Regions from separate parts of the Homo sapiens genome. Here all the other regions are linked to region 1. Evidence: fine-mapped expression QTL. A gene starts in region 1. Each other region holds a variant in brackets. All regions are shown on one strand. Distances are from middle to middle.

The links. PIP is the estimated chance that this variant, and not a neighbour inherited with it, causes the effect.
Region 2: its variant is fine-mapped to the expression of RCC1 in whole blood (INTERVAL, PIP 0.96).
Region 3: its variant is fine-mapped to the expression of RCC1 in whole blood (TOPMed, PIP 0.95).

Annotation. Positions count from the first base shown.
Region 1 is chr1:28,502,203-28,512,559 of GRCh38, reverse strand. RCC1 (regulator of chromosome condensation 1) reads right to left here and starts at 6,517. Exons shown (of 13, transcript NM_001381865.2): 1 at 6,476-6,517; 2 at 4,400-4,432; 3 at 3,655-3,730. SNHG3 (small nucleolar RNA host gene 3) reads right to left here and starts at 6,617. Exons shown (of 4, transcript NR_036473.1): 1 at 6,476-6,617; 2 at 6,233-6,340; 3 at 4,400-4,432; 4 at 1,668-3,730. It overlaps SNORA73A (small nucleolar RNA, H/ACA box 73A), which reads right to left and starts at 5,195; the gene lies at 4,989-5,195. It overlaps SNORA73B (small nucleolar RNA, H/ACA box 73B), which reads right to left and starts at 4,002; the gene lies at 3,798-4,002. RefSeq lists enhancers at 201-769, 2,161-2,380, 2,154-2,919, 4,452-5,217, 5,409-5,703 and 1 more.
Region 2 is chr1:28,568,666-28,579,022 of GRCh38, reverse strand. It overlaps TRNAU1AP (tRNA selenocysteine 1 associated protein 1), which reads right to left. Exons shown (of 9, transcript NM_017846.5): 7 at 7,685-7,847; 8 at 7,123-7,156; 9 at 478-1,523. The coding sequence ends at 1,387. SNHG12 (small nucleolar RNA host gene 12) reads left to right here. Exons shown (of 6, transcript NR_146382.1): 6 at 343-485. SNORD99 (small nucleolar RNA, C/D box 99) reads left to right here and starts at 201; the gene lies at 201-280. The variant A/G (reference allele first, on the strand shown) is at 4,944.
Region 3 is chr1:28,467,791-28,478,147 of GRCh38, reverse strand. PHACTR4 (phosphatase and actin regulator 4) reads right to left here. Exons shown (of 14, transcript NM_001048183.3): 7 at 3,997-4,594; 8 at 1,857-2,041. Among named protein-coding and RNA genes, the nearest start is that of SNHG3, 33 kb to the left of the region's middle. The variant T/A (reference allele first, on the strand shown) is at 5,769.

The DNA.
Region 1 (10,357 bases):
AGATGAGCAAACTAACCCCAAAATAAGCAAAGAAAATAATAAAGATAAAAACAAATCAATAAAAAAGAACACAGAAAAATTAAATCAGCCAGTGCTTGCTATATGGCAGGCACAGTACAAGAATAAGTACTGAGTTTACATATGCAGTCTCTTGAGGATCCTCCAAGTAGGTTAGATGGACATAAAATGGAAAATAACCAGATCAGAATACTAATGACCAGGAAGAATGATCAAGGTGCCAGCCTGCCTTCAAGAGCCAGTGAGGCCATTGTGGATCCTTAGGGAAAGGGGAGGTGAGGATAGTGGTTAAGAGATCAAGGCTCTGCCGGGCGTGGTGGATCACCTGAGGTCAGGAGTTTTGAGACCAGCCTGGCCAACATGGCGAAACCCTGTCTCTACTGAAAAAAAAAACACAAAAATTAGCCGGGTGCGGTGCAGGCGCTTGTAATCCCAGCTACTTGGGAGGTTGAGGCAGGAGAATCGCTTGAACCCAGGAAGCAGAGGTAGCAGTGAGCTGAGATCACGCCACTGCACTCCAGCCTGGGAGGCAAAGACTCCATCTCAAAAAAAAAAAAAAAAAAAAGGATCAGGCTTGAGGCTAGGCGCAGTGGCTTACGCCTGTAATCCCAACACTTTGGGATGCTGAGGCAGGTGGATCACTTGAGGTCAGGAGTTCGAGACCAGCCTGGCTAACATGGTGAAACCCGTCTCTACTAAAAAATGCAAAAAAAATTAGCCGGGCATGGTGGCGTGCGCCTGTAATCCCAGCTACTTGGGAGGCTGAGGTGGGAGAATTGCTGGAACCCGGGAGGTGGAGGTTGCAGCAAGCCAAGATGGCTCCATTGCACTCCCTCCTGGAGACAGAGTGAGATTAGATCTCAAAAAAAAAAAAGCTGGGCATGGTGGCTGACGCCTGTAAACCCAGCACTTTGGGAGGCCGAGGTGGGCGGATCACGAGGTCAGGAGATGGAGACCTTCCTGGCTAACATGGTGAAACCCCTTCTCTACTAAAAATACAAAAAAATTAGCCGGGTGTGGCGGCGTGCACCTGTAGTCCCAGCTGCTGGGGAGGCTGAGCTTGCAGTGAGCTGAGATTGTGCCACTGCACTCCAGCCTGGGCGACAGAGCGAGACTCCCTCTCAAAAAAAAAAAAAAACAAAAAACAAAAAATTGGATACTGTATCCTTGGTTTCTGAGAAGTCACAAAAGAATGTTATTTAATAAGTGATCATGCTGCTGCACTCCATCTAGAGACCCTAAGAATCTTTTCACAAATACCAACTCCTTTGTCCTTATTACAACTCTATGAGGTAGTTTATCACTTATTTTGTGAACATGAAATTGAGGCAGAGGGGCTGAGTAACTCACCCAAAGTCTCATGAACAGCAAGTGGTGGGATCAGGATTCAAACCCAGTCTAGTACTCCTAAGATAGGCAACCAATACTGTCTGCCTACACAAAGAACAAGGCCAGAAGTGCCTGTTTGGAAAGTCTAAAAAAGGGGTATTGCAAGCTGAAGTTTAGCAGAGTGGGACCTGAACACCTACTGACAGCTTTGCTTCACCTCTACCTTGCAAGTCAATAGAAATTCATTCATTTCCTGCCCAGCACTGCAGTTACCCAAACCCACCTGAGTATATGGATTGAAAACATACTAAAACCACTGGTTCAGAAAAAAATCACTTTACTCAGGTGAGATCTATGTAGTTACAGCAGGACACGGATGGGACTGGGCATACAGACGAATGGGGCTGACTCATCTGGCTTCTTCCTGAGCAGGGAATTTGATGCTTGTTTCTGCAGAGGTGCCACTTCTAGTTGTGGACTTGGACAATTAGTCTTTTGGTTCCTGGGATTCCCCATTGGAATATGCTGTATTAAAGCCCACTTAGTGCTTACCTAGAACAGTGCCTGGCACAGGTAAGCACAAATACAATTGCTTTAGGAAGATGCCTTTTTTTTGAGACTTAACTCTGTCACCAGGCTGGAGCGCAGTGGCAAGGTCTCAGCTCAGTACAACCTCCATCTCCCGGGTTCCAGCAATTCTGCCTCAGCCTCCCACAGGTGCACACCACCATGCCCAGTTATTTTGTATTTTTAGTACAGACAGGGTTTCACCGCGTTGGCCAGGATCTCTAGATGTTGTGATCCGCCTGCCTTAGCCTAAGTGCTGGGATTACGGGTGTGAGCCACCAAGCCTGGCTGCATTTAACATGCCCTCTTAAACACTGCCTCACTCCTCTTAGCTTGTAAGAAAAATCAAGCTGTGTTCCCCCACAATCATAGCTAGTAACTAGCTTCCATTCTCAAACCAACCCTGACCTCAACACCTTGGCAAGCAAGCTCTACAGTCCACCAAACTCCAATCTCACCCACCTCCCTCAAACCTGTCTCCATCAAGTTCCAAATGGCTTAACGGCTGTCCCACCTCCCCTATGCCAGTAGGTAACTTTACCTTCTAGATGATCCCCCTTCAGTCCCATCCTTCAGGGTACTGAACATTTATGTTGGCAGCCAGTGCAGGGGGCTTGACAAAGTTTCCATTGTGACTCACGTCATGAGGCAAGCAATTCTGGCAATCTTCAGGCGGAGGTGCGCCAGGTAGTAGAGGCTCATACAACTCATCAGCTAGGGATACAACCTCCCGTTGCTACCATCGATTTTTCCTCCACTACACTGCAGGAAGCTAAAGAATCGGTCTAACTCATCTTGCACTCAACCCAGACTTACGGTCCTATTGGTCAGGACCTAATATCCATTTTCCCAATAAACTGCCAATATAAAGTGAACCCAAGGGGGACCCACCTGAGACTAGGTTTCAGGGCCTTTAGAACTGAAGCTATCATGCTAGTTTCCTTCAACAGTACCATTCAGATTCTTGGCTGATGTCACCACAGCCACCTCCACAAAAATGAACCACAAACATGCAGTCGTATTTATTTTAATTCATAAATACATTAACATAGCAGATTAGGCAATTTGTTAGGTAAATTACAAATACATTAGAAATCATACAAAAGTGGCCGGGCAGGGTGGCTCACAGCTGTAATCCCAGCACTTTAGGAGGCTGAGGTGGGCGGATCACGAGGTCAGGAGTTGAGAACAGCCTGGCCAATATGGTGAAACCTCATCTCTACTAAAAATACAAAAATTAGCCAGGTGTGGTGCTACACGCCTGTAGTCGCAGCTACTTGGGAGGCTGAGGCAGGAGAATCGCCTGAACCTGGGAGGCGGAAGTTGCAGTGAGCAAGATCATGAAAAGCAAAATACTCAAGGACTTTTAATATAACCACCAACACAGTGTGCCTTCTGGCCAAGCAGAGTCACTTCTGTGGTTCTTAAAGTATGAATGAGGTGAAAGAATGTGCATTCCTAGCTAAATGCCAAATTCCAAAGCCTTTAGTACAAAAACAGCAGACTTTCTGCAAAACAGGTCGACTTTTAAAAGAGGTATGAGGGCTGGGCGTGGTGGCTTATGTTTGTAATCCCAGCTACTTGGGAGGCTGAGGTTGCAGCCAAGATTGCGCCACTGCACTACAGCCTGGGCGACAGAGCAAGACTCTCAAAAGGAGGCATGAAATGCACCTCAATCTTTTGCTCCAAGTCTGCCAAAGATTGTCAAACCCTCCCTGTTAAAAAAAAAAATCAGTTTACCTACTCTCCCTTCTATATAAAGGACCCTAAAATTAAATGTCAATGCCAAAATGCGAAGTGCAGATCGTCTTCTCTCCTAAAAGAAAAGAAATAATGATTAGACTCCTGAAGATCCTACTTCAACTTAAAATCTAGTATACTAGATATGTTTCCTGCATGGTTTGTCTCCCCAGTCATTGTCCACAGGACTCTGGGAAGCTGTAGGAATATGCAGGCGCAGACACGAGGCCCAGCTTCATCTTCAACGTTGTGGAAAGGGACTGTACATCATGGGGCAGAGCCCTAAGCTCCCCTATGCCACTTGGACAGAGCCTGGGGAGAGTGACCTCCCAGGGTATCCACGTTGGAATGCTCATTAGTGAGGAATTGGAGTAACCGACAAATCCAATATTGCTAATCACCCACAGTATTTTCAAGGGCTAGTATCTTTCTCAGCTCAGGCTACACATGTAGATAAAGCCAATTAGGCTTCCTACAGTTCACTAGGGCAGCTTTTACTACTTTGCACTTTTAATGAGCTGACTAAAAAAAGCAATTTTTACAGAACAGAGCATATGTTGAAGTTATGTCAACATGCCTACAAAAATGCAGCAAAGTCGATATTTGGCTATTGCTCTGAGAATGATTAAATGCCTCAGAGGTAAATCCTGACCAACTAGAATAAAAGTCTCTTCAATCCTATTTCCATTACAGAAATCATTGACAAAGAGCTGATAAGCAAAAAACAATTAGCAGATTTACTCACCAAATAAGAGTTACTTGGAATCCTTAACAAATCCTGCAAAACAAGATATTAATCTATTAGTACAGCAAAACCCTAAACTTTTTCAACGAGGGGCCTCATGCTATCGCCTGGGGTTGGAGTACAGTGGCACTGGAGTATAGGTTTGAGTATAGGTCACTCCTGGGCTCCAGCGATTCTCCTTCCTCCAGCTACCTATCATCATGCCTGGCTACTTTTTAGCCAATTTTTCTTAAACATGTATTAAGACTTCAATCCAGCCAGGTGTGGTGGCTCACGCCTGTAATCCCAACATTTTGGGAGGCCAGAGGCTGGCGGATCACAAGGTCAGGAGTTTGAGACCAGCCTGACCAACATGGTGAAACCCTGTCTTTACTAAAAATACAAAAATTAGCCTGGCGTGGTGGCGGGGGCCTGTAATCCCAGCTACTCAGGAGGCCAAGGCAGGAGAATCACTTAGCATAATCACTTGAACCCGGGAGGCAGAGGCAATGGAGTGCGCCACTGCACTCCAGCCTGGGCAACAGAGCGACTCCATCTCCAAAAAAAAAAAAAAAAAAAAAGACTTCAATCCAGATTCAGTGCTCTAGAAGGCTGTTTCCTGCATGGTTTGTCTCCCCAGTAATTGTCGACAGGACTCTGGGAAGCTGTAGGAATATGCAGGCGCAGACACGAGGCCCAGCTTTATTTCCAACGTTGTGGAAAGGGACTTGTACATCATGGGGCAGAGCCCTATGCTCCCCTACGCCACTTGGACAGAGCCCGGGGAGAGTGACCTCCCGGGTGTATCCACGTTGGACAATCAGTGTAACGCATAAATTTACAGAATCCAATAGGAAACAATTTCATCCATTCATGTTACTACAGATCTTAAACAAGAAAGCAAACGAGTTTCCACCCTGTCCACAGTGGGGTGTTAAAAAAAAATCGGTTTCTAGACTGGTAACATGCATATTCAGCTATTCTAATTACTTTACAATAGGCGGTTAGTACTATGTGGAAGGTACCGCAGAAGCAAAGACAACAATTAGGCCCAGCTATCCTAAATTCAAATGAAACACGTGGACTTGTTAATTACCCCCAAATCGGCCAGGCACGATGGCTCACGCCTGTAATCCTAAAAATATAAAAATAAAAATGACCCAAATCACAAAAATACGAGAAAGCATAATTACGAAACGCAATGCTTCCAAATTATGAAAATCTTCGGCCTGGCGTGGCGGACCACAAGGTCAGGCGTTGGAGACCAGCCTGGCCAACATGGTGAAATCCCGTCTCTACTAAAAATACAAAAATAAGCCAGGCGCGGTGGTACACGCCTGTAGTCCCAGCTACTCGGGAGGCTGCGGCAGGAGAATTGCTTGAGCCCAGCAGGCGGAGGTTGCAGTGGTGCGATCAAATAAAAAGAAAAATTGAGAAAATTCTTAAAGGCAAATGAGGATCCAGAATAAAACTGTGTGCAATTATATTGAGAACGACAATGTGCCTACTATGAGGCAGTAAGATAAACAGTGGGGGTGGCGGTGCACCTTCAGAGGCTCGCTGGGTCGGGCGGCAGCCCTGCGGGTCCCGAGGTCTCCATGGCCCACTTCTGGCCCAGGCCCGTCTAACGCGTACTTTAGAGTTGGGACCGATGCCGCCTAAGACACCCATATATAGTTTTAAATTACATGATTTCCGGCCAGGCGCGGTGGCTCACGCCTGTAATCCCAGCACTTTGGAAGGCCGAGGGTGGTGGATCACCGGAAATCAGGAGTTCAAAACCAGCCTGACCAACATAGCGAAACCCCGTCTCCACTAAGAATACAAAAATTGGCCGGGCGTGGTGGCACGTGCCTGTAATCCCAGCTGCTGGAGAGGCTGAGGCACGAGAATCGCTTGAACCCGGCAGGCGGAGGTTGCAACGAGCACTGCAGTCCAGCCTGAGTGACAAACCGACTCCGTCTCAAAAAAAAAAAAAAAGTAAATAAATAAAATACTATATGATCTTCCTAGGGAAGCTCGGCTACTGATCTATAGCATTAGACCCACAACTCCGGTGGCAAGCATCTGATCACACTTACCAAGGATCACACTTACCAAGGAGAAGAAGCGACCACTGCGAATCTGTCTCCAAAAAGGAGAGAGAAAACGCGAAGCATCCTTTTTAAACCTTACGAAGTGCCCGGAAGTCCTGGAATGTCTATTGCGCGTGCGCAGAAGCATGCGCAGTTAGAGAATCAGAAACTCACTGAGGCTTCTGGGAATCTACTGCAGATTGAGCCCCACCCCTTCCTGGCTGGGAGGCCTCTCGCGGTAGTGGATCCTTCCCGCGGGACCTTGCTGGGGAATGTACGTTACAGAAATAGGTTTGTAGGTATGTAGCTGCAGAGGACGTTTACTTCTGTGCAATCACTGGACTCAGTCTGTAGGATATGCCCTTAGATAAACTGGCCAAAAAGTTTTTGGAAGAGTCGAACGCGGTGGCTCACGCCTGTGATTACAGCAGCTCTGAAGGCCGTGAGGGGCGGATCGCTTGAGGCCAGGAGTTCGAGACCGGCCTGGGCATCATGGCGAAACCCCGTCTCTACAAAAAATACAGAACATAAGCCAGGCATGGTGCCGCGCACCTCCAGTCCCAGCTACTCGGGAGGCTGAAGCATGAGAATCGTTTGAACCTGGGAGGCGGTGGTTGCAGTGAGCCGAGATCGCGCCGATGCACTCCATCCTGGTCGACAGAGCGAAACTCTCTCTCCAAATAAATAAGTAAAACGTTGGAATAATAAGAATGCAGAATGAAAAAAATACATATAGAGAAATACGGAGTATCAAAAGGAATTGAATCTGCTCTGTCACCTGTGAAAGAAATAATTTGATAAATGTGAAGGTAAATAAGATGAAAGTGCCCCTAGACGAATCAGATAAAAGTTTAAAAACTCCAGGCCTGGCCCGGATAAAAATAAATAAAAATAAAAAATAAAAAACTCCATTGCACAACAGTGTGAATGAATGTAATTAAAAGCACTGCCCTATACTCTTTCTTTTTTTTTCGAGATGGAGTTTTGCTCTGTCACCCAGGCTAGAGTGGAATGGCGCGGTCTCGGCTCACTGCAACCCCGGCCTCCCGGGTTCAAGCGATTCTCCTGCCTCGGCCTCCCCAGTAGCTGGGATTACAGGCGCCCGCCACCGTGCCTGGCTAATTTTTGTATTTTTAGCAAGACGGGGTTTCACCATCTTGGCCAGGCTGGTCTCGAACTCCTGACCTCAAGCAATCCACCCGCCTCGGCCTCCAAAGTGCTGAGATTACAGGCATGAGCCAGCGCACCTGGACTTTTTTTTTTTTTTTTTTTTTGAGACGGAGTCTCGCTCTGTCGCCCAGGCTGGAAGGAAGTGGTGTGATCTCGGCTCACTGCAACCTCCACCTCCCAGGTTCAACCAGTTCTCCTGCCTCAGCCTCCCGAGTAGCTGGGACTATAGGCATGCCACCATGCCCGGCTAATTTTTGTATTTTTAGTAGAGACCGGGTTTCACCATGTTGGCCAGGCTGCTCTCGAACTCCTCACCTCAAGTGATGCCCGCCTTGGCCTCCCAAAGTACTGGGATTACAGGCCTGAGCCACCACACCTGGCCCCCTATACATTTTAAACTAGTTAAAAATGGCAAGTTTTATGTATATTTTACCACACACAAAACCCTCTGAATATGAAGTAGGCAAGTAAAGAATGCTTACGATATATATACATAAGAAATGTTGCAAATATGATGGAATTTTTAGTGTGGTGTAAGGTGGAAAAACGTTGGCTAGAGAGACAGAGCTATCACAGCTGGGCTATCTTGAGTAGTAACGTTTATGGTGTTCCTCCTACATATTAGATTTTGTTCTGAATGCTTTATTACGTACATTATTTACTATCGCAGCAATTCTTTTTTTTTTTTTTTTTGAGATGGAGTCTTGCTCTGTTGCCCAGGCTGGAGTGCAGTGGCTCGATCTTGGCTCACTGCATTCTCTGCCTCCTGGGTTCAAGCAATTCTCCTGCCTCAGCCTCCCGAGTAGCTGGGACTGCAAGCAAGTGTCACCATGCCCCACCAATTTTTGTATTTTCAGTAGAGACGGGGTTTCACCATATTGGCCAGGGTGGTCTTGAACTCCTGACCACGTGATCTGCCCGCCTTGACCTCCCAAAGTGCTGGGATTACAGGCATGAGCCACCGTGCCCGGCCTACAAATTTTTTTTTTTTTTTAGATGAAGTCTCACTCTGTCCCCCAGGCTGGAGTGTAGTGGTGCGATCTCGGCTCACTGCAACCTCCGCCTCTCAGGTTCAAGCAATTCTCCTGCCTCAGCCTCCTGAGTAGCTGGGATTACAGGCGCCCGCCACCATGCCCAGCTAATTTTTGTATTTTTAGTAGAGACGGGTTTTCAGCATGTTGGTCAGGCTGGTCTTGAACCCCTGACCTCATGATCCACCTGCCTCGGCCTCCCAAAGTGCTGGGATTACAGGCTTGAGCCACTGCGCCCGACCCCGGCCTACAAAATTTTAAAAAAAATGTTAGCTGAGTGTAGTGGCACATTCCTGTAATCCTAGCTACTTATGAGGTGTGAGGATCACCTGAGCCCAGGAGATGGAGGCTGCAGTGAGTCGTGATCATGCCACTGCACTCCAGCCTGGGCAACAGAGCAAGAACCTATCTCAAAAAAAAAAAAAAAAAAAAAAAAAAAAGACATTTCTGATGTAGGGTTTGTCGTCCCACTGGAATTGCAAGGTAAGAGAAGAACTTGAGGATACCAGAGTTTCAGGCTTAGGAGGCTGAACATACTATGGTCTCTAACCTTGATAAGTGGAAATGCAGGCAGTGGGGGAGGAGTAATGTCCACATTGGAGTATATACGAGTTACCTGAGTAACATCTGGTTGTATATAAGTCCAAAGAGCAATTAGATATATGGGGTTGGGCTTCCTGTAAGAAATCTGAGTTGGTGATAAAATATTTAGAAGTTGTAAGAATTAGCATGGTGGCTAAAGTCGTCTTGGAAGAATGAGGAGAGTGATGGGAAGACATGAAACCCCAGCATTTATTTTATTTTGAGACAAGATCTCGCTCTGTTGTTGAGGTTGGAATGCAGTGGTGTGATCAGGACTACTGCAGCCTGGACCACCAGGGCTGAAACGATTCTCTCACCTCAGCCTCTTCTGAGTAACGGGAACTAGAGGCATGCACCACCATGCTCAGCTAATTTTTTAAATTTTTGGTAGAGATGGCCTCTCACTATACTGCCCGGGCTGGTCTTGAACTCCTGGCCTGAAGCGATCTGCCAATCTTGGCCTCCGAAAGTGCTGGGATCACAGGCATGAGCCACCACACCCGGTAAAACACAGCATTCATTTATTTTATTTTATTCATTTATTTTTGGATGGAGTCTCACTCTTGTCACCCAGGCTGGAGTGCAGTGTTGTGATCTTGGCTCACTGCAACCTCTGCCTCCCGGGTTCAAGCAATTCTCGTGCCTCAGCCTCCCAAGTACCTGGGACTACAGGCACATGCCACCACACCCAGCTAATTTTTTTGTAGTTTTAGTAGAGATGGGGTTTCACCATGTTGGCCAGGTTGGTCTCGAACTCCTGACCTCAGGTGAACCACCTGCCTCGGCCTCCCAAAGTACTGGGATTACAGGCGTGAACCATCGCACCTGGCCGAAAACCCAGCATTTAAATGGTGTTCGAGGAAGAAGCCAGCAGCACAGAGAAAGGTCAGTCAGGGAAGGAGAACCAGAAGACAGCGGTGCCTCAGAAGCCAAGGAAGAAGAGTTTTGAGGACTAGAACATTGTCCAAAGCACCAAATGTTGCAAAGCAGCCAAGTGCAATAACCGAAGGCTGAGAAATCCCTGGTGACCACAGGAAAGCCATATTGGTTTGGATTTCGTTTAGATTTTAATGAGCTGAGTGAATATGGCCTTAGGTAGGGAAAACAATGTGCACAGACCA
Region 2 (10,357 bases), 66 kb before region 1:
TTAGAACATGATTTACCCACCCTAAAATGCATTGAAGGCATCAGAGGGCACCGTGGGCCACAAGGCCTGGTAGCCACAAATGTTCAGTGGTGGCTGGAGCTCATGATGCATTCTTTGGTGGGACGTCTCTCAGCATTAGGGAGAGTTGAGAGTGGGGTAGAAACAAGGGGTTCCATGTAGCACACACTGTATTTAGAATGACTGGTCCAGGATGAAACCTAATTTGAGTGGACATCCATGGATGAGAAATGCGGATATGGGACTGAGACCAGCTCCTAGGAAAATGTCTGGGTGGGGGAAATCTGGGAATTAGTAACACAATGGCTTACACTTCCTTTGCAGGACAATCTCTATGGGAAGCAGAAGGCAAGGACCCCGGTCATTTTAGGTAGAAACAACAGCATGCTAATGCAAAAAATTATGCAGTGTGCTACTGAACTTCAGAGGTGATCAATAAAAGAAGAATAAAAAGACTAATAAAAGTATATTTGTGTTTGTATTTTTTTGTAGAGACCGAACTGGTCTCTTCCCGAGCTCAAGCAATCCATCTCCCAAAGTGAGCCACCATGCCCAGCCCTTAAAGAGATCTTTGGAGATTTTTTATGATGTAGGATGAATGCTTTGCCTCAAGCAGTAAGTCCCAACACATGACAAGGTTGGACAGTTTCCCCATTTACTTGGGAAACACGGAAGTGAGCAGTATAAAGTTCACACGGAGGGTCTGCTTTGGCTTTGAGCTATCTTCCTTAATCCTTTCTGAGCTGCCTTCTCCCGTGTCAAAATATTGATCCTAAAGTGATCCAGGCCTTGTATATGCAGATGCTGCAACTCATGAAAATAGATGAAACCCATTATTAGAGCAAGTACTAATTCTTAGGCCAACTGGCCTGTTCCATCACACCCCACCACATTCTACCTTCTGGGGCGTGCTCCTACCACACCTGCTAGAGTGCCTTTTCTACCTAGCTGCCAGACTTGCACCAAGTTAGGACTCAAATATGGCAGGTCCTACAAATACTCCAGAGAACCCTGATTTACATACCTACCTGTCAACTGAGAAACCTTGAACTCAGGCTTTAGTGTGTGAATTATCCCAAGCTGCTCATCCCAGTTTTGGATAATCCCAAACTGTCCTATGTGGATAACTACCTGGACAAAGGATTCCTGTGAAGGAAACCAATTTGAACCTTGTTTAAAAGTTGTTCCCTTGGTCTTCAAACTCAAATGGTCAAATGAATGCAGCAGTGTTGTAGAAACATTCATGATCTCCAAAAACAGTCATTATTAAAATCTTACAAATCATATTTCCAAAAAGGTTTCACAATTTTTAAAAAGGAGTCTCTCATCTCCCTCACATCATGCAACCTGGCTTGTCCTTTGGCCTGGCTACATCATGGCAGGGATCTCTGAAGACACTGTGTCCAGGGGCTGCCAGTGACAGTCCATCAGAGCGTCATACAGCTCCTCACTCTGTTCCATGAACTCCTTGTTGGCCTCAGTCACATCCAGCTGTGGCATGGGGTCTGGAAAGCAAGCAAGGATGGGGTCAGGGAAGTCTAGGGACAGCTGCAAGGGACCTGGTTCAGTTCCCTTCTCCCAGAACTCTGTTCTATGGTAAGGTCCCTATCCTGCCAGTTTCTTTCAGGAAGTGAAAGCACTGCCTTGCAGGGTTCTGGGGAAGATGAAAATAGAATAATGTATCTAGAGAATGGGAAAATGGCAGCTGTTAGCCTGCATCTATTAAAAGCTACACCTGTGTCTCTAGCCATCATGTATCCTAGATTTTCTGGTCTGGTCCTCACTTCAAATTTGGGTTTAGAAGGTCTGATCAAAGTTATTAAGTCCAGAGCATCATCTCAAGAACTGACAATAAGTGCATAGTGGAAGAACTTCAGTCAAATATAGGAGCTGAAAGGCCAAGTCCTGTATGTATGTATGTGTGTGTGTATGTACTTTAGAGAAAGGGTCTTGCTCTGTCACACAGGCTAGAGTACAGTGGCACACTTACAGCTCACAGCAGCCTTGAACTCTTAGGTTAAAGTGATCCTCCCGCCTTAGCCTCCCAAAGTACTGAGATTACAGGCATGAGTCCCTGTCCCTGGTGGTAAAATACTATTAAAAATTTTTTCTGCACAGTGGCTCATGCCCATAATCCCAGCACTTCAGCAGGTCGAGGCGGGCAGATCACCAGAAGTCGGGAGTTCAAGACCAGCCTGACCAACATGGAGAAATCCCATCTCTACTAAAAATACAAAATGAGCCGGGCATGGTGGCACATGCCTATAATCCCAACTACTCGGGAGGCTGAGGCAGGAGAATTGCTTGAACCCAGGAGGTGGAGGTTGCGGTGAGCCGAGATGGCACCACTGCATTCCAGCCTGGGCAACAAGAGCAAAACCCCGTCTCGGCCGGGCGCGGTGGCTCACGCCTGTAATCCCAGCACTTTGGGAGGCCAAGGCAGGCAGATCACAAGGTCAAGAGATCGAGACCATCCTGGCCAACATGGTGAAACCCCGTCTCCACTAAAAATAGAAAAATTAGCTGGGCGTGGTGGCAGGCACCTGTAGTCCCAGCTACTCGGGAGGCTGAGGCAGGAGAATCGCTTGAACCCGGGAGGCGGAGGTTGCAGTGAGCCGAGATCACGCCATTGCACTCCAGCCTGGGCAACAGAGCAAGATGCCATCTCAAAAAAAAAAAAAAAATTAGCTGGGCATGGTGACCTGTGTCTGTAGTGCCAGCTACTAGGGAGGCTGAGGCAGGAGGATCACTTGAGCCTAGGAGGTCGAGGCTGCAGTGAGGCATGTTCACATCACTGATCTCAAGTCTGGGCAACAAAGTGAGACTCTGTCTCAAAAAAAAAAAAAAACTGGGCACTGTGGCTCATGCCTGTAAACCCAGCACTTTGGGAGGCCGAGGTGGGCAGATCACAAGGTCAAGGGATTGAGACCATCCTGGGCAACATGGTGAAACCCTGTCTCTACTCAAATACAAAAAATTAGCCGGGTATGGCAGTGCACGCCTGTAGTCCCAGCTACTCGGGAGGCTGAGGCAGGAGAATCACCTGAACCCGGGAGGCAGAGGTTGCAGTGAACAGAGATGGCACCACTGCACTCCAGCCTGGCGACAGAGCAAAGACTCTATCTCAAAAAAAAAAAAAAAAAAAAAAGCCAGGCGCAGTGGCTCAAGCCTGTAATCCCAGCACTTTGGGAGGCCAAGGTGGGCGGACCACCTGAGGTCAGAAGTTTGAGACCAGCCTGACCAACATAGAAACCCCATCTTTATGGGGTTAGAAAAATAGAAATAGAAAATTAGCTGGGCATGCGAGATTGCGCCACTGCACTCCAGCCTGGGCGACAGAGCAAGACTCCGTCTCAAAAAAAGAAAAAAAGAAAATTAGCTGGGCATGATGGCGCATGCCTGTAATCCCAGCTACTCGGGAGGCTGAGGCAGAAGAATCACTTGAACCCGGGAGGCGGAGGTTGCAGTGAGCTGAGATCGCGCCACTGCACTCCAGCCTGGGCAACAAGAGTGAGACACCGTCTCAAAAAAAAAAAAAACAAAAAAAAACATTGGGCCTGGCGCAGTGGTTCACACCTGTAATCCCAGCATTGGGAGGCAGAGGCGGGCGGATCATGAGGTCAAAAGATAGAGACCATCATGGCCAACATGGTGAAACCCCATCTTTACTAAAAATACAAAAATTAGCTGGGCGTGGTGGCGCGCATCTGTAGTCCCAGCTATTCAGGAGGATGAGGCAGGGGAATCGCTTGAACCTGTGAGGCAGAGGTTACAGTGGGTCGAGATCGTGCCACTGAACTCCAGCCTGGTGACAGAGCAAGACTCTCAAGAAAAAGAAAACAAAAAAAGGATTAAAAAGAGATTGGAAAATTCTAAGGACTTATCTACAGATATTATGAGGCTAATTATCTCTAGAAAGAAGGCAATGTCTCCCAGGGGGAAACAACTAGAGACTTGAATATAAAAAGACCGGACTGTCCTGACTTTGCCCCACACTGTGTGACCCTCAGCAGATCACTTGGGCTTTCCGAGCCACTAGTTTCCCATCTGTGAAATGGAGCTCCTGTGTCCTTCCCAGCCCACCCCACAAGGTCACTACAGTTGGCATCACATGAGAGGACACAAGAAAGTGCTTTAAAATGTTATGAACTAGACAAGTTTGTTCATGCCCTAAAAGGGATCTGTTTCCTTTAACGAACATTTTCTTGACAGAAAACATTTTCCCTATGACTTTCTCTTGAAGACGAATCCTCAAAACAGATTTCAAACTTTGAGTCTTTTTGTACCTCAAAAAAAGTTTTGGCCAGGAGCAGTGGCTCATGCCTATAATGCCAGCACTTTGGAAGGCCGAGATGGGCAGATCACTTGAACCTAGGAGTTCAAGACCAGCCTGGGCAACATGGTGAAACCCTGCCTCTACAAAAAAATAGAAAAAAATAGCCAGTTATGGTGGGGCACAACTGTAGTCACAGCTCACTGAAGCCTCAACCTCCTGGGCCCAAGCAATCCTCCTGCCTCAGCCTCCCCCAAGTAGCTGGAACCACAGGCCACCATGCTTGGCTTTCAGTTTTTCTTTCCTTTTTCTTCTGTGAAATTCAGTGAAAATTATAAATACTTGGCCGGGCACAGTGGCTCATGCCTGTAATCAAAGCACTTTGGGAGGCTGAGGCGGGAGGATTACTTGAGGTAAGGAGTTCGAAACCAGCCTGGCCAACATGCTGAAACCCTGTCTCTACTAAAAATACAAAAATTAGCCGAGCGTGGTGGTGCATGCCTGTAATCCCAGCTACTCAGGAGGCTGAGGCAGGAGAATCACTTGAACCTGGGAGGCAGAGGTTGCAATGAGCTGAGATTGGAGACTGCACCACTGCACTCCAGCCTGGGTGACAGAGCAAGACTCCGTCTCCCAAAAAAAAAAAAAAAAA[A/G]AGAGATGGGGTCTCGTTATGTTGCCCAGGCTGGTCTCAAAGTTCTAGGCTCAAGCCATCCTCCAACCCACGTTGGCCTTCCAAAGACCTTACAGGCTTTAGCCACCGTGCCTAGACAGTAAATACTGTTGTTTTTTTTTTTGAGACGGAGTTTCACTCTCGTCACCCAGGATGGACTGCAATGGAGCATTCTTGGCTCACCGAAACCTCCATCTCCCGGGTTCAAGTGAGTCTCCTGCTTCAGCCTCCCAAGGAGCTGGAATTACAGGCATGGGCCACCATGCCTGGATAATTTTTTTTTTTTTTTGAGACAGAGTCTTGCACTGTTGCCCAGGCTGGAGTACAGTGGTATGATCTCGACTCACTGCAACTTCCGCCTCCCGGGTTCAAGTGATTCTCCTGCCTCAGCCTCCTGAGGAGGTGAGATTATAGGCGCGCAACACCACGCCTGGCTAATTTTTTTATTTTTAGTACCGGCAGAATTTCACCATGTTGGCCAGGCTGGTCTAGAACTTCCGACCTTAGGTGATCCTCCCGCCGTGGCTTCCCAAAGTGCTGGGAGTACAGGGGTGAGCCACCGCGCCTGGCAATTTTTTTATTTTTAGTAGAGACGGGGTTTCACCATGTTGGCCAAGATGGTCTCGATCTCTTAACCTCATGATTCACCCTCCTTGGCCTCCCAAAGGGCTGGGATTACAGGGGTGAGCCACCGTGCAAGGCTTAAATATTTTTAATTAAAAAATTAATAATGGGCTGGGCACGGTGGCTCACCCCTGTAATCCCAGCACTTTGGGAGGCGAGGCAGGCGGATCACGAGGTCGAGTTTGAGACTAGCCTGGCCAAGATGGTGAAACCCCGTCTCTACTAAGAATACAAAAATTAGCTGGGCGTGGTGGCATGTGCCTGAAATCCCAGCTCTTCGGGAGGCTGAGGCAGGAGAATCACTTGCACCCGGGAGGCGGGCTTGCAGTGAGATGAGATTGCGCCACTGCATTCCAGTCTGGGTGACACAGCAAGACTCTGCCTCAAAAAAAAAAAAAAAAGAAAAAGAAAAAATTAATAATGGCTATTACTATGTTGTAATAGGATATGGGGTGATTTTCAGTTTCATTATACTTTACTATATTTTCTTTTTCTTTTTTTTTGAGACGGAGTCTCGCTCTGTCTCCCAGGCTGGAGCCCATTGGTGCGATCTCGGCTCACTGCAAGCTCTGCCTCCCGGGTTCACGCCATTCTCCTGCCTCAGCCTCCCGAGTAGCTGGGACTACAGGCGCCCATCACCACACCCGGCTAATTTTTTCTATTTTTTAGTAGAGACGGGGTTTCACCGTGTTAGCCAGGATGGTCTCGATTTCCTGACCTCACAATCCACCTGCCTCGGCCTCCCAAAGTGCTGGGATTAGAGGCGTGAGCCACCATGCCTGGCCCATACTTTACTATATTTTCCAAATTTTCCATCCTAACGATGACTTAAAAATCAGGAAAATATGTCTTTTAAAATATATTGAAAAACAGAAAAAAAATAAAATAAATAAAAAATGAATTTTACAAACAGTCAAACAAATAAAAGGTAACAGTATTATCGGCCAGGCACAGTGGCTCATGCCTGTAATCCCAGCACTTTGGGAGGCTGAGGCGGGCGGATCACCTAAGGCTGAGAGTTTGAGACCGGCCAAGCCAACATGGAGAAACCCTGTCTCTACTAAAAATACAAAATAATTAGCTGGGCATGGTGGTGCATGCCCGTAATCCCAGCTACTCGGGAGGCTGAGGCAGGAGAATTGCTTGAACCTGGCAGGTGGAGGTTGCGGTGAACTGAGATCATGCCATTGCACTCCAGCCTGGCCAACAAGAGTGAAACTCCACCACACACACACACAAAAAAAGGGTAACAGTATTATCGTTAGAGGCCCACATACCAGGATAGAATGCCACATGTCAAGGGGGTGATGGGCTCTCCTGGAGCTGCCTGTCCCAGGCTCTCTGGGATCTACACTTACACCTCTGGGTAACACCCGACACATCTTACCATAATTACATATTTGTCTGGCTCTCTAACCAGAATGTAAGTTCTTCCAGAGCAGAATTTATCTTGTCTTCCCTCTAGCTGAGAGCACAGTGCCAGCCACAGCAGTCACCTGATAATGGCTGACAGAGTAAGGAACGTATGAACCCTTACCTTCCAATGCATCATCTCCAACTTCTTCATATGTCTGCCAAGAGACCAGAGATGTGGGTTAGGGGCATGGTGAAATCCTGGCCCAGGACCACAGTGGCTTATATTTTTTATTTTTTTTGAGGTGGAGTCTAGCTCTGTCACCCAGACTAGAGTGTAGTGGCGTGATCTCGGCTCACTGCAACACCCGCATCCCAGTTTCAAGAGATTCTCCTGCCTCAGTCTCCTGAGCAGCTGGGATTATAGGCGCCTGCCACTATGCCCAGCTAATTTTTTGTATTTTTAGTAGATACAGGGTTTCACCATGTTGGCCAGGCTGGTTTTGAACTCCTGACCTCAGGTGATCTACCTGCCTCGGCCTCTCAAAGTGCTAGGATTACAGGTGTGAGCCACTGGGCCCTACCCACAATGGCTTATTTTTAACAAGAGGAACTGGACTGCTTCAACTTTCCCTATTTTTTCTGAAGCCCAAGCCCCTGTCCTTACCAATCCCATCCTAGAGAATGACCTGTTTCTAGAGGAGAAACACAACCCAAGGGGACCAGTCTTGCCAAGTCATGGTTACCTGCATGGTGCTCTGGGTATAGCCATACTGGGGGTAACTGTAGCTGTAGCTGCCTGTGTTCTGGTCATAGCCCCACTGAGCATAGTAGTTCTGGTACTGCTGATAATACTGGTTGTAGCTATAACTGTACATCTGACTATATTCCACTGGCTTTACACGGCTCCTTAAATGAAGACAGAAACAAAAATAAGTGTAAGCAAACATTTCCGTAACACTGCCTATGTGGCCACAGACTATTTTAAGTGCTTTATACCGATTAACTTTTTTTTTTCTTGAGACAGAGTCTTGCTCTGTTGCCTAGGCTGGAGTACAGGGGCGCAATCTCGGCTCACTGCAACCTGCGCCTCCCGGGTTCAAGCGATTCTCCTGCCTCAGCCTCCTGAGTAGCTGGGACTACAGGTGTGTGCCACCACGCCTGGCTAATTTTTTGTATTTTCAGTAGAGACAGGGTTTCACCATGTTAGCCAGGCTGGTCTCGATCTCCTGACCTCGTGATCCGCCTGCCTCAGCCTCCCAAAGTGCTGGGAGCCCGGCCACCAATTAACTCTTTTAATCCTCAAAACAACCATATGCAATAAGTGTATCATTATTCCTATTTTACAGATAAGGAAACTGAGGAACAGAGAGGTTAAGTAATTTGTCCAAAGTCACACAGCTAATATGAGAGTATGGCTCCAGAGACCATGCTTTTAATACAGGAGATTTTAATGGATAGGTTTGTCTCTCTTAACAAACTATGTCAGGACTGGCAAAAGGATATCCTGTTTAAAAAAAAAAACAAAACAAAAAAGGGCTGGGTGCGGTGGCTCACACCTGTAATCCCAACACTTTGGGAGGCGAAGGCAGGTGGGTCACCTGAGGTCAGGAGTTCCAAGACTAGCCTGGACAACATGGTGAAACCCCATCTCTACTAAAAATACAAAAAATTAGCTGGGTGGGATGGCGCGCCCGCAATCCCAGCTGCTTGTGAAGCTGAGGCAGGAGAATCGCTTGAACCTGGGAGACAGAGGTTGCAATGGGCCTAGATTGTGCCACTGGACTCCAGTCTGGGCAATAAAAGTGAAACTCTGTTTCAAAAAAAAAAGAAAAGAGACAGACGTGGTAGCTCACGCCTATAATCCCAGCCACTTGGGAGGCTAAGGAAGGAGAATCGCTTGATCCTGGGAGGCCCAGCTAATTTTTGTACTTTTAGCAGAGATGAGGTTTCACCATGTTGGCCAGGGTGGTCTTGAACTCCTGGCTTCAAGTGATCCACCCAACTCAGCCTCCCAAAGTGTTGGGATTACAGGCGTGAGCCACAGCACCCCGCCTTTTGTTTTCGTTTTTTTTGTTGTTGTTTTGAGAGAGTCTTGCTCTGTCGCCCAGGCTGGAGTGCAGTGGCGCGATCTCGGCTCACTGCAACCTCCGCCTCCTGGGTTCATGCCATTCTCCTGCCTCAGTCTCCCGAGTAGCTGGGACTATAGGCGCCCACCAGCACGCCCGGCTAATTTTTTTTTTTTTTTTTTTTGGTATTTTTAGTAGAGACGGGGTTTCACCATGTTAGCCAGGATGGTCTCAATCTCCTGACCTTGTGATCTGCCCGCCTCGGCCTCCCAAAGTGCTGGGATTACAGGCGTGAGCCACTGCACCTGGCCTTTTTTTTTTTTTGAGATGGAGTCTCACACTGTCACCCAGGCTGGAGTGCAGTGGCACAATCTTGGCTCACTGCAAGCTCTGCCTCCTGGGTTCATGCCATTCTCCGGTCTCAGCCTCTCTGAGTAGCTGGGATTACAGGTGCCCGCCACCACACCTGGCTAATTTTTTGTATTTTTAGTAGAGACGGGGTTTCACCATGTTAGCAAGGATGGTCTCGATCTCCTGACCTTGTGATCCACCCACCTCGGCCTCCCAAAGTGCTGGGATTACAGGCATGAGCCACCACGCCCAGCCTATTTTGTTTTTTAAGAGACACGGTCTCACTCTGTTGCCTGGGCTAGAGTGCAGTGGAGTTATCATAGCTCATTGTAACCTTGAACTCCTAGGCTCAATCAATTCTCCCACTTCAGCCACCAGAGCAGCTGGGACTAGAGGAGTACACCAAGCCCAGCTAATTTAATGTTTTTATATAATAATTTATTTACAACAAATAACATTTTTGGGAGAAGTCACTAAGCCTGATCTTCAATGTATTAAACACAGTTAAACCATAAAGAACCCCTAAATCATTGCTTTCAAAAACATGGCTATTTGGCTGGGCGCAGTGGCTCACGCCTGTAATCCCAGCACTTTGAGAGGCCAAGGCAGGCAGATCACCTGAGGTCAGAAGTTCAAGACCAGCCTGATCAACATGTGAAACCCTGTCTCTACTAAAAATACAAAAATTAGCTGGGCTTGGTGGCACATGCCTGTAGTCCCAGCTACTCGGGAGGCTGAGGCAGGAGAATCGCTTGAACCTGGGAGGTGGAAGCTGAAGTGAGTCAAGATCACGCCACTGCATTCCAGCATGGGCAAAAGAGCAAGACACCATCTCAAAAAAAAAAAAAAAATAGTTCAACTACTCTTAGGGTAGAGTTTCTCAGCCCTGGATCTATTGACGTGGAGGGGTGGGTGGCTGTCCGATGAATTGCATGATGTTTAACAGTATCCTTGGCCGATACCCACTAGGTGCCATTAGTACATCCTTGGTTGTGATAA
Region 3 (10,357 bases), 34 kb after region 1:
TGTATGTTCTCACTCTTACGTGGGAGCTAAAAAAGTTGATCTCATGGAGGTAATAAATAAAATGGTGGTTACCAGAGGCAGGGAAGGGTAGAGGGGATGGGGGAGAGAGAGACTGGTTAATGGGTATAAAAACAGAATTAGATAGAAGAAATAAGATCTAGGCCGGGCGTGGTGGCTCATGCCTGTAATCGCAGCACTTTGGGAGCTGAGGTGGGCAGATCACTTTGAGCTCACAAGTTCGAGACCAGCCTGGGCAACATGGTGAAACGCTGTCTCTATAAAAAAATACAAAAATGAGCTGGGCGTGGTGGCTCACACCTGTGTTCTCAGCTACTTGGGAGGCTGAGGTTGGAGCATTGCTTGAGCCAGGAAGTGGAGGTTCCATTGAGCTGAGATTGTGCCACTGCACTCTAGCCTGCAGAGTGAGACACTGTCTCAAAAAAAAAGGAATAAGATCTAGTGTTCGGTGGCACAATAGGGTGACTATAGTTAACAATAATTCATTGTATATTTCAAGATAACCAGAAAGGTAGATTTGGAATAATCCCAATACAAACAAATGATAAGTGCTTGAGATGGATAGCCTAATTACCCATACACACATGCTTATATCAAAATATCTCATGTACCCCATAAATATATATTACTATTATATATCTATAAAAATTAAAAATAGGCTAGGCACGGTGGCTCATGCCTGTAATCCTAGAGCTTTGGGAGGTCAAGGCAGGGGGATCACATGAGGTCAGGAGTTCAATAACAGCCTGGGCAGCTGGGCACAGTGGCTCACACCTATAATCTCAGCACTGTGGGAGGTGGGCGGATCACGAGGTCGAGTTCGAGACCAGCCTGGCCAACACAGTGAAGCGCCGCCTCTACTAAAAATAAAAAAAAATTAGCTGGGCCTAGTGGCAGACGCCTGTAATCCCAGCTACTTGGGAGGCTGAGGCAGGAGAATTGCTTGAACCCGGGAGGTGGAGGTTGCAGTGAGTTGAGATCGTGCCCCTGCACTCCAGTCTGGATGACAGAGCAAGACTCTGTCTAAAAAAAAAAAAAAAATTATATATATATCTTTTATGGCCAGGCACGGTGGCTGACACCTATAATCCCAGCACTTTGGGAGGCCGAGGCAGGCAGATCACCTGAGGTCGGGAGTTTGAGACCAGTCTGACCAACATGGTGAAGCCCCATCTCTACTAAAAATACAAAATTAGCCAGGTGTGGTGGCACATGCCTGTAATCCCAGCTACTTGGGAGGCTGAGACAGGAGAATTGCTTGAACCTGGGAGGTGGAGGTTAAACTGAGCCGAGATCGCACCATTGCACTCCAGCCTGGGCAACAAGAGCAAAACTCCGTCTCAAAAAAAAAAAAAAAGAACAGGCTAGGCAACCTAACGAGACCCTGTCTCTACAAAAACAAAAAACAAAACAAAAAATCAAAGAAACCTAACCAGTTGTGGCACACATCTGTCCTAGCTATTTGGGAGGTTGAGGCGTAAGGATCACTTAAGTCCAGGAGTTGGAGGCTACAGTGAGCGACGATTGCACCACTGTACTCCAGCTGGGTGACAGATCAAAACCTTGTCCAAAAAAAAAAAAAAAAATTAAAACAAAAAAAAACAAAAAACCTAAAACCTGAGTGACTCAATCTACTTGGATCCCTGTCTTGGCTTGTTTTAACAGAGGGGTGATAATAGGGACAAGGAGTCCTTCACAGTGGCTTCCAACATCAGTTAGCCAGATGACTTAATGGGAGAAGGTACCTGTTTCCATATCTCTTTTGACACTTGCTAAGATCAGCAAATAGTTTTATCTGGAAAAGAATTCTCTGTTTTGCTTTTCCCTCCCTTTCTTACTCTGATAGCTTTCATCTTCATCTTCTTCATCTCGGTACTGAATGGGACCTTCTGAATCAGAGTCGCTCTCCTTCTCTTCTTCCTCCCGTAGACACTGTGGTAATTTAGGAATGACTGAGGTAGGTGTCATTTCTTCACTGAATGTGGATGGACAGGTTTGCTCCTCTTCTTCTTCATCGTCTGGACTAACAAATTAACATAATTATATTTTCCTTTTAGAAATGAAGAGGATAACTGACTTTTAAGACAAAGGACTGAAATAAAGACTGGGCGTGGTGGCTCATGGCTGTAATCCCAGCACTTTGGGAGATGGAGGTGGGCAAATTCACCTGAGGTCAGGAGTTTGAGACCAGCCTGGCCAACATGGTGAAACCCTGTGTCTACTAAAAATACAAAAATTAGCCTGGCATGGTGGCAGGTGCCTGTAATCCCAGCTACTTGAGAGGCTGAGGCAGGAGAATCTCTTGAACCCAGGAGGCAGAGGTTGAAGTGAACCGAGATTGTGCCACTACATTCCAGCCTGGGTGACAAGAGTGAGATTCTATCTCAAAAAAAAAAAAAAGACAAAGGACTGAAATAACCATAAATACAAAAAAATCTATGGATGAAGTAACTTATAATTAATTCTCTCCCTTAACTTTAACAATCTTACTAAGAAACTTTTTAGCAGGTATTAATCTAAGGGTTCAGATCCCAGCTTTACCACTTATTAGGCACTGGTGCTTTCCAGAATTTGTCTAATGTCATTCTCACAAGCCTACAGAGTAAATATTATTCCCATTTAGAGATGATATAACTAAAGAGCAGAAGGCTTCAGTAACTTAACACTACTATAAGCTAAGAGTGGTAGTGCTGCAATTTGAACCCAGGGCTATCTCACTCCAAGGTGAATGCTCTTAAGCACAACATTATACAATGCCTTCCCTGTAGTATATAAAACTAGCGGTTGTAATTTTTCATGTACATAATTTTGTAAATTTTGTGTCATCACAAAAATCTCCATGAAAAAAAAAAAATCACAAGAGTAAAAAATCAAAATTTGGCCAGGCGCAGTGGCTCACACCCATGATCCCAGCATTCTGGGAGGTTGAGGCAGGCAGACTGCTTGAGCCCAGGAGTTCAGGGTGAGCCTGGGCAACATGGCAAAATCCCATCTCTAACAAAAAATATAAAAATTAGCTGGGTGTGATGGCATGCGCCTGTAGTCACAGTTACTCGGGAGGCTGAGGAGGGAGAATTGCTTGAGCCCAGGAGATGGAGGTTGCAGTGAGCCAAGACTGCACCACTGACTCCAGCTTGAGTGAGAGAGTGAGAACCTGTCTCAAACATAAATAAATAAATAAATAAATAAAAATAAAGTTTTAAGGTAAGATTAAAAAAAGAAAGAGTCCAAATTCTATAACTTATTCTTTTGGCAGAGTATTCTTTGTACTTTAAATTTATTCACAATGCTGGGCGCGGTGGCTCACACTTGCAATCCCAGCACTTTGTGAGACCGATGCAGGTGGATCACCTGAGGTCAGGAGTTCGAGACCAGCCTGGCCAACATGTTGAAACCCCATCTCCACTAAAAATACAAAAATCAGCCGAATGTGGTGGCACATGCCTGTAGTCTCAGCTACTCGGGAGGCTGAGGCAGGAGAATCGCTTGAACCTGGGCGGCAGAGGTTACAGTGAGCGGAGATCGTGCCACTGCACTCCAGCCCGGGTGACAGAGCAGGACTCCATCTCGGAAAAAAAAAAATTATTCACATTTTCTTTTTTTCTGTGAGACAGAGACTCGCTTTGTCGCCCAGGCTGGAGTACAGTGGCACAGTCTTGGCTCACTGCAACCTCCACCTCCCTGTTAAAGCGATTCTCCTGCCTCAGCCTCCCGAGTAGCTGGGATTACAGGTATGTGCCACCACGCCTGGCCAATTTTTGTTATTTTCATCGAGACAGGGTTTTACTGTATTGGCCAGGCTGGTCTTGAACTCCTGACCTCAGGTGATCGGTCCATTTGCCTCAGCTTCCCAAAGTGCTGGGCTTACAGGTGTGGGCCACTAGGCCCGGCCCACATTTTCTTTTTATAAGTAATTTTTTCCAAGCAGGGCTATCTAGAGTAAAGGAGAAATAAGAGGCAAGCTTTAAAGGCACTTACACTTTTAGCATTTCAATAGTGATGGGAAGAGACCTGGTCCGACCCAGCGTACTGCTGTCCTCAGAAAAGCTGTCACTGTTTTCAAAAAGCAACGAATGAGCTCTGTGAGAACCCTCCAGAATAGGAGTCATGGGAAGTGGGCTGGTGAGGGCCTGCTGGATTCGAATATGCAGTGGGAGTGGAGGCAGCCTAGAGGGTATATGGGGCTCCCCAAAGTTCTGGTCCAGTATCCTCTTGGGGACTTCCTTTTTCTGATCTTCCTGCTGGGGAATCTCCTGGTGTAGATCTAAGGATGGTGGAAACTCAATTTCTGGCACAACTTGAAAAGTCTTAGCAGGGAATGGAGGGGTGCGTGGAGGCTCTGGAGGTATATGAGTAGGCAGTGGGGGGGACGGAGAGCGAGGTGAGATCATTGGTAGTAGTTCCGAGCCCATAGAACACGTGCTCTTCTCTCTTTCATCACTTGGTGTTTTTGTGGTGATGGCAGCAGCAGACTCCAAGGTGGGTACTGAGGTTGATGGAATGCCTCTCTTAGGTGGTAAGGGTGGGGACGGTTTTGATAACAATGTACCACTGTTTATTGCTTGGGACAGTTCAGCTGGAAAAGAGAGAGCAACACATCAATTTCACGACTTTCCAATGCTTTGAAGGGCCGGCCCAGGGCCTAGAATTAAAGTTGAGTTCAGTTTTAATCTTTTAAGCAAGTTAAATAATTTCATAGTTTTGCCATTCCCTATATATTTTATCCTGAAATGAAGTTTATATTTATTCAAATAGAAGGCTTAATAAATGTACAGAGGTGTAGGAAGACTGATGAGTAGCTTACTTCATTGCTATGGCAACAGATATGACAATTTTTTTTTTTTTTTTTTTTTTGAGACAGGGTCTCACTCTCTCGCCCAGACTGGAGTGCAGTGGCGCGATCTTGGCTTACCGCAACCTCTGCCTCCCGGGCTCAAGCGATACTCCTGCCTCAGTCTACCAAGTAGCTGAGATTACAGGCGCACGCCACTACGGCCCGGCTAATTTTTGTATTTTTAGTAGAGGCGGGCTTTCACCATGTTGGCCAGGCTGGTCTCGAACTCCTGACCTCAAATGATCCACCTGCCTTGGCCTCTCAAAGTGTTGGGATTACAGGCGTGAGCCATGGCACCCGGCTGACAACTTTTTGTAACTTGATCTTGGTGTAGTTAATATGAATAGAGACAAAAAAAATCTGATAAAAAGTTATCTTGTGGCTGGCACGGTGGCTCACACCTGTAATCCCAATACTTTGGGAGGCCGAGGTGGGCAGATTACTTAGGTCAGGAGTTCGAGACCAGCCTGGCCAACATGGTGAAACCCCGTCTCTACTAAAAAAAAAAAAAAAAAATTACAAAAATTAGCTAGGTGTGGTGGTGGGCACCTATAATCCCAGCTACTCAGGAGAGGCTGAGGCACGAGAATCTCTTGAACCTGGGAGGCGGAGGCTGCAGTGAGTCAAGGTCATGCCACTGCACTCCAGGCTGGACAGCACAAGACTCTGACTCAAAAAAAAAAAAGTTATTTTGTATAACAGTACTCCATTAAAAAATTTAAACATTCAGATAGCATAAAATAAGTATTAGTGGGTATTGTTACCATATCCTGATAATGGTATCTAGATATCTTAGCTCTGTGTTATAAAACTGTCAATACTGACATCTTGAATTTTTATAGCAATTGCAAAGTCCTTTGAAGAAATCAAAGTGTTTTTTGTCCTTGAAGTCATATTCTCCTTATACCACCTGAGG[T/A]GACAGGGGAAAAAATATAGCATCTTTACCATTTTTCAGAAGGAAAAGGCAAGGCCACAGAAGCTAGGTGACTTTGCCCAAGATCATACTACAAACTGGCATGGACTCAGCTGGTATCCAAGTCTCTGACTATTTGACTGCATCCTACTGTCTCTAATTTTTTTTTTTTTTTGAGACGGAGTCTTGTCGCCCAGGCTGGAGTGCAGTGGTGCCATCTCGGCTCACTGCAAGCTCTGCCTCCCGGGTTCACACCATTCGCCTGCCTCAGCCTCCCAAGTAGCTGGGACTACAGGCGCCCACCACCACTCCCGGCTAATTTTTTGTGTATTTTTAGTAAAGACGGGGTTTCATCATGTTAGCCAGGATGGTCTCAATCTCCTGACCTCGTGATCCGCCCGCCTCGGCCTCCCAAAGTGCTGGGATTACAGTCGTGAGCCACCGCGCCCGGCCTACTGTCTCTAATTTTTATTGGTATGCACACCTCTTATGTTCCCTTTGCACCTCAGCTTCCCATGTTCACTCTCCACTATATCATGGGCTCCTTGATGGCAGGGCAACCTTGTCTCCATCAACATATCATCCACAGGGCTGTGCACAGTACCTGGCATCTAGTGGACCCTCAATATATGTTTATTAGATGAGAAGCCTTCACCCTGTATCATGACAGTATATATTCCTATAGTTTCACCAAAGCCCACAATGACTCAGCAAAGGTGTTGGTGTTGTTTCAGCAAAGTCCCTTTGGAGGGCTCCAGATGACCTGTAAGAAGTGGATCATCAGATCACACAGGAGTAAAACTGGTAAAGTAATTAAAGGGTAGTTATTTTTTCCCTGCTGACAGGAAAAAAAAAAAAAAAGTAGTTCTTTTGATCACCAACCTCTAACCTTCTACTCAAACCCTTTAGTTTCATCCCACTCAGTATTCTCAAACACTCTCAAAAACTTCCCTTAAATAAAACTGTATTTGTCCTAAATCTCCAAAATTGGAGATGTTCAAAGTAAAAGGCTAGCTAATTATTTTTTTCTTTTTTGAGATGGAGTTTCACTCGTTGCCCAGGCTGGAGTGCAATGGCGCCATCTCGGCTAACTGCAACCTCCACCTCCTGGGTTCAAGTGATTCTCCTACCTCAGCCTCCTGAGTAGCTGGGATTACAGGCATGTGCCACCACGCCCGGCTAATTTTTTGTATTTTTAGTAGAGATGGGGTTTCTCCATGTTGGTCAGGCTGGTCTTGAACTCCCGACCTCAGGTGATCCACCCGCCTCGGCCTCCCAAAGTGCTGGGATTACAGGCATGTCCGCTTTGCCCGGCCAAGGCTAGCTAATTTTATAATTCTTTTTTTTTTTTTCTTTTGAGACAAGGTCTCCCTCTGTTGCCCAGACTGGAGTGCAGTGGCATGAACAATAGCTCACTGCAGCCTCGATCTCCTGGGTTCAAGTGATCCTCTTGCTACAGCCTCCCAAGTAGCTAGGACTACAGGCCCATGCCCCCATGCCTGACTAATTTTTTTAATTTTTAGTAGAGACAAGGTCTCACTATGCTGCCCAGGCTGGTCTTGAGGTCCTGGGCTCCAGTGATACACCTATCTCAGCCTCCCAAAGTGCTGGGATTATGGATGTGAGCCACCACACCCAGCCTCTTTTCTTTTTAAATTTATTTTTATTTTTAAATTAAATTAATTTATTTTAGACAGGGTCTCACACTGTGTCACTGGAGTGCAGTGGCGCAGTCACGGCTCACTGCAATTTTGACCTCCCTGGGCTCAGGTGATCCTCCCACCTCAGCCTCCCAAGTAGCTGGGACCATAGGCATGTGCCACCATGCCCGGCTAATTTTTGGGGGGGGTATTTTTTGTAGAGATGGGTTTCTCCATGTTGCCTAGGCTGGTCTCAAACTCCTGGGCTCAGGTAATCTACCTGCCTCAGCCTCCCAAAGTGTTGGTACTACAGGTGTGAGCCACTGTACCTAGCCTTTTCTTTTTTTTTAGAGACAGGATGTTGCTCTGTTACCCAGGCTAGAGTGCAGTGGTGCAATCATAACTCACTGCAGCCTTGAACTCCTGTGCTTACCCAATCCTCTTACCTCAATCTCCCAAGTAGCTAGAATTACAGGCACATGTCACCATGCCCAGCTAATTTTTAAATATTTTATAGAGATGGGGTCTTGCTACGTTGCTCAGGCTGGTCTTGAACTCCTGGCCTCAAGTGATCTTCCCACCTCGGCCTCCCCAAATGCTGGGATTATAGGCATTGAGCCACTGTGCCTGGCCTAATTTTGTAATGTTTTAATGTCTCTCATCATAAATAATTTTTTTTTTTTTGAGACAGAGTCTCGCTCTGTTGCCTAGGTTGGAGTACAGTGGTGCAATTTTGGCTCACTGCAACCGCCACTTCCCGGGTTCAAGTGATTCTCTCCTGCCTCAGCCTCCTGAGTAGCTGGGATTATAGGCATGCACCATCATACCCAGATCATTTTTTGTATTTTTAGTAGAGATGGGGTTTCACCATGTTGCCCAGGCTGGTCTCAAACTCTGGGCCTCAAGCGATCTGCCCACCTCGGCCTCCCGAAGTGCTGGGATTACAGGCATGAGCCACCATGCCTGGCCCCATAAATAAATTTTAAAAAAGGCTTTCTAGAAAAACACTGCATACACACACAAAAAGATTCTAAAAATGTGAATTTTAGGAGCAGTGAAAGAGATATTTTTGGAAAGATTGGATTTTTGCTGATTCTCTAAAAATAGCTGTTAGCTATTCCATCTACAACAAAACTCATTCCTGATGAGACCATAAATGAATATTTTTACTTTTGAATTAATAAAATAAATTCTATTTGGTAATTTGAGGAAGGCATATATGTTAAGGAAGTAAATTCTGGTATATATACCCTGACAACAGCATCTGGCTGTAGTTCTGTGGAAAAATTTCAGAGTGTTTCTGGGATGGGTAATAATTCCCTTTCACCCGTTCAGCTATTGCTGGTGGTTTTTCCTTAGTCGTAATACTCCATGTTATATGGATGAGAAGACAGTAGTACTTCTGAAGCAATGATTTCCAAACTTTTGGATTTCAGTGACCAAAACAATAACAAAAATCTTGATCAACCTCAGATTGTTGGTTTTTTTTCTAGTGTTTTTTTGAGGTTGTCATTTTCTAAGATTTCCAAATAAGGCTTGATATTAAGTAAACCATTTATGATCATAATCCTTTTGTGAAAGAAATGGCATTTTAACACCAAAGGATTAGGAAGGTTGTAATTTTAGAATAAAAGAGAGTCCTTTAAATTAAATCTATTTAGCTCTAAGAAATGCTCTGTGAACTGTTCTATTTTTCTTCTTTTGTTGAGGACCCCTCATGGACTAATACTGATTCCTCAGTTACAAGGTCTATTGTTTTGGGCTATTTACCTCAAGCTAAGAATGAGCTCTGCAGTTTAGTCCAGGGTATCATACACAAATTATCATTTTATATGTTGCCTTAACTTGAAAAGGGTGGTATGCCACTGGTGTAGAGCAGAGGCTCTTAATGTGTGCTCCCTGGAGAGCAGCATCAGTGTCATCTGGGAACCTATTAGAAAGGCAAATTCTCAAGCCCATCCCAGGCTTACTAAAATCAGAAACTCTACGGGTAGTGTCCAGCAGTCTGTTATCATAAGCTTTCTAGGTGATCCTGAGGAGAACACCAGTTTGCAAACACTACTGTAAGGAACAGAGGTCTGGACCTGAGAGTTGAAAAGCCTATGTTCAGTTTCTATCTTTCACTAACTACAACCTTCTTCTTTTTTTTTGAGATGGAGTTTTGCTCTTGTTGCTCAGGCTGCAATGCAGTGGCACAATCTCAGCTCACTGCAACGTCTGCTTCCCACGTGCAAGCAATTCTCCTGCTTCAGCCTCCCGAGTAGCTGGGATTACAGGTGCCTACCACCATGCCCGGCTAATTTTTTGTATTTTTAGTAGAGATGGCGTTTCACCATGTTGGCCAGGCTGGTCTTGAACTCCTGACCTCAGGTGATCCACCCGCCTCTGCCTCCCAAAGTGCTGGGATTACAGGCATGAGCCACTGCGCCTGGCCTACAACCTTGAATGAGTCACAATGTCTTCATGTTCTAATTGCCCTACCTATGGAAAAGATAAAATTGGTTTCCTGCAGCACAAGGTAGTTTTGAAAATAAGTATGTGAAAGCTCCCCAAGTTCCTCACAGATAAGTCAACATGACACTATCCATCCAAAGTGGTGGTAATAACAACTTCATCCTGTTTTCATCAAGCTACTCCAAACTGTCATACTCATAAAATATTCTAAGCCTGTTTTTCAAGGTTTGAATCACTCCACCCAACATGGTGATATTAAATATTTAATGAGTATAGTTTTTATTCATTCGTTCAATCGTGAACAAGAACTTTAAGCAATACTAAGCCTAGTATCATTTTTCCTGAAAAAACTATATTTTTATTAGCTTTGAAGCACTCATTAGCTTTCCTCTCCCTTTCTTGAAAATTCTTCTAAGAAATTGTGCATTTATATAAAGAAAGTAGACTTAAATAGAACTTTGGGTAAATGCAAAAAATTTACTAAACCCATACAAATTT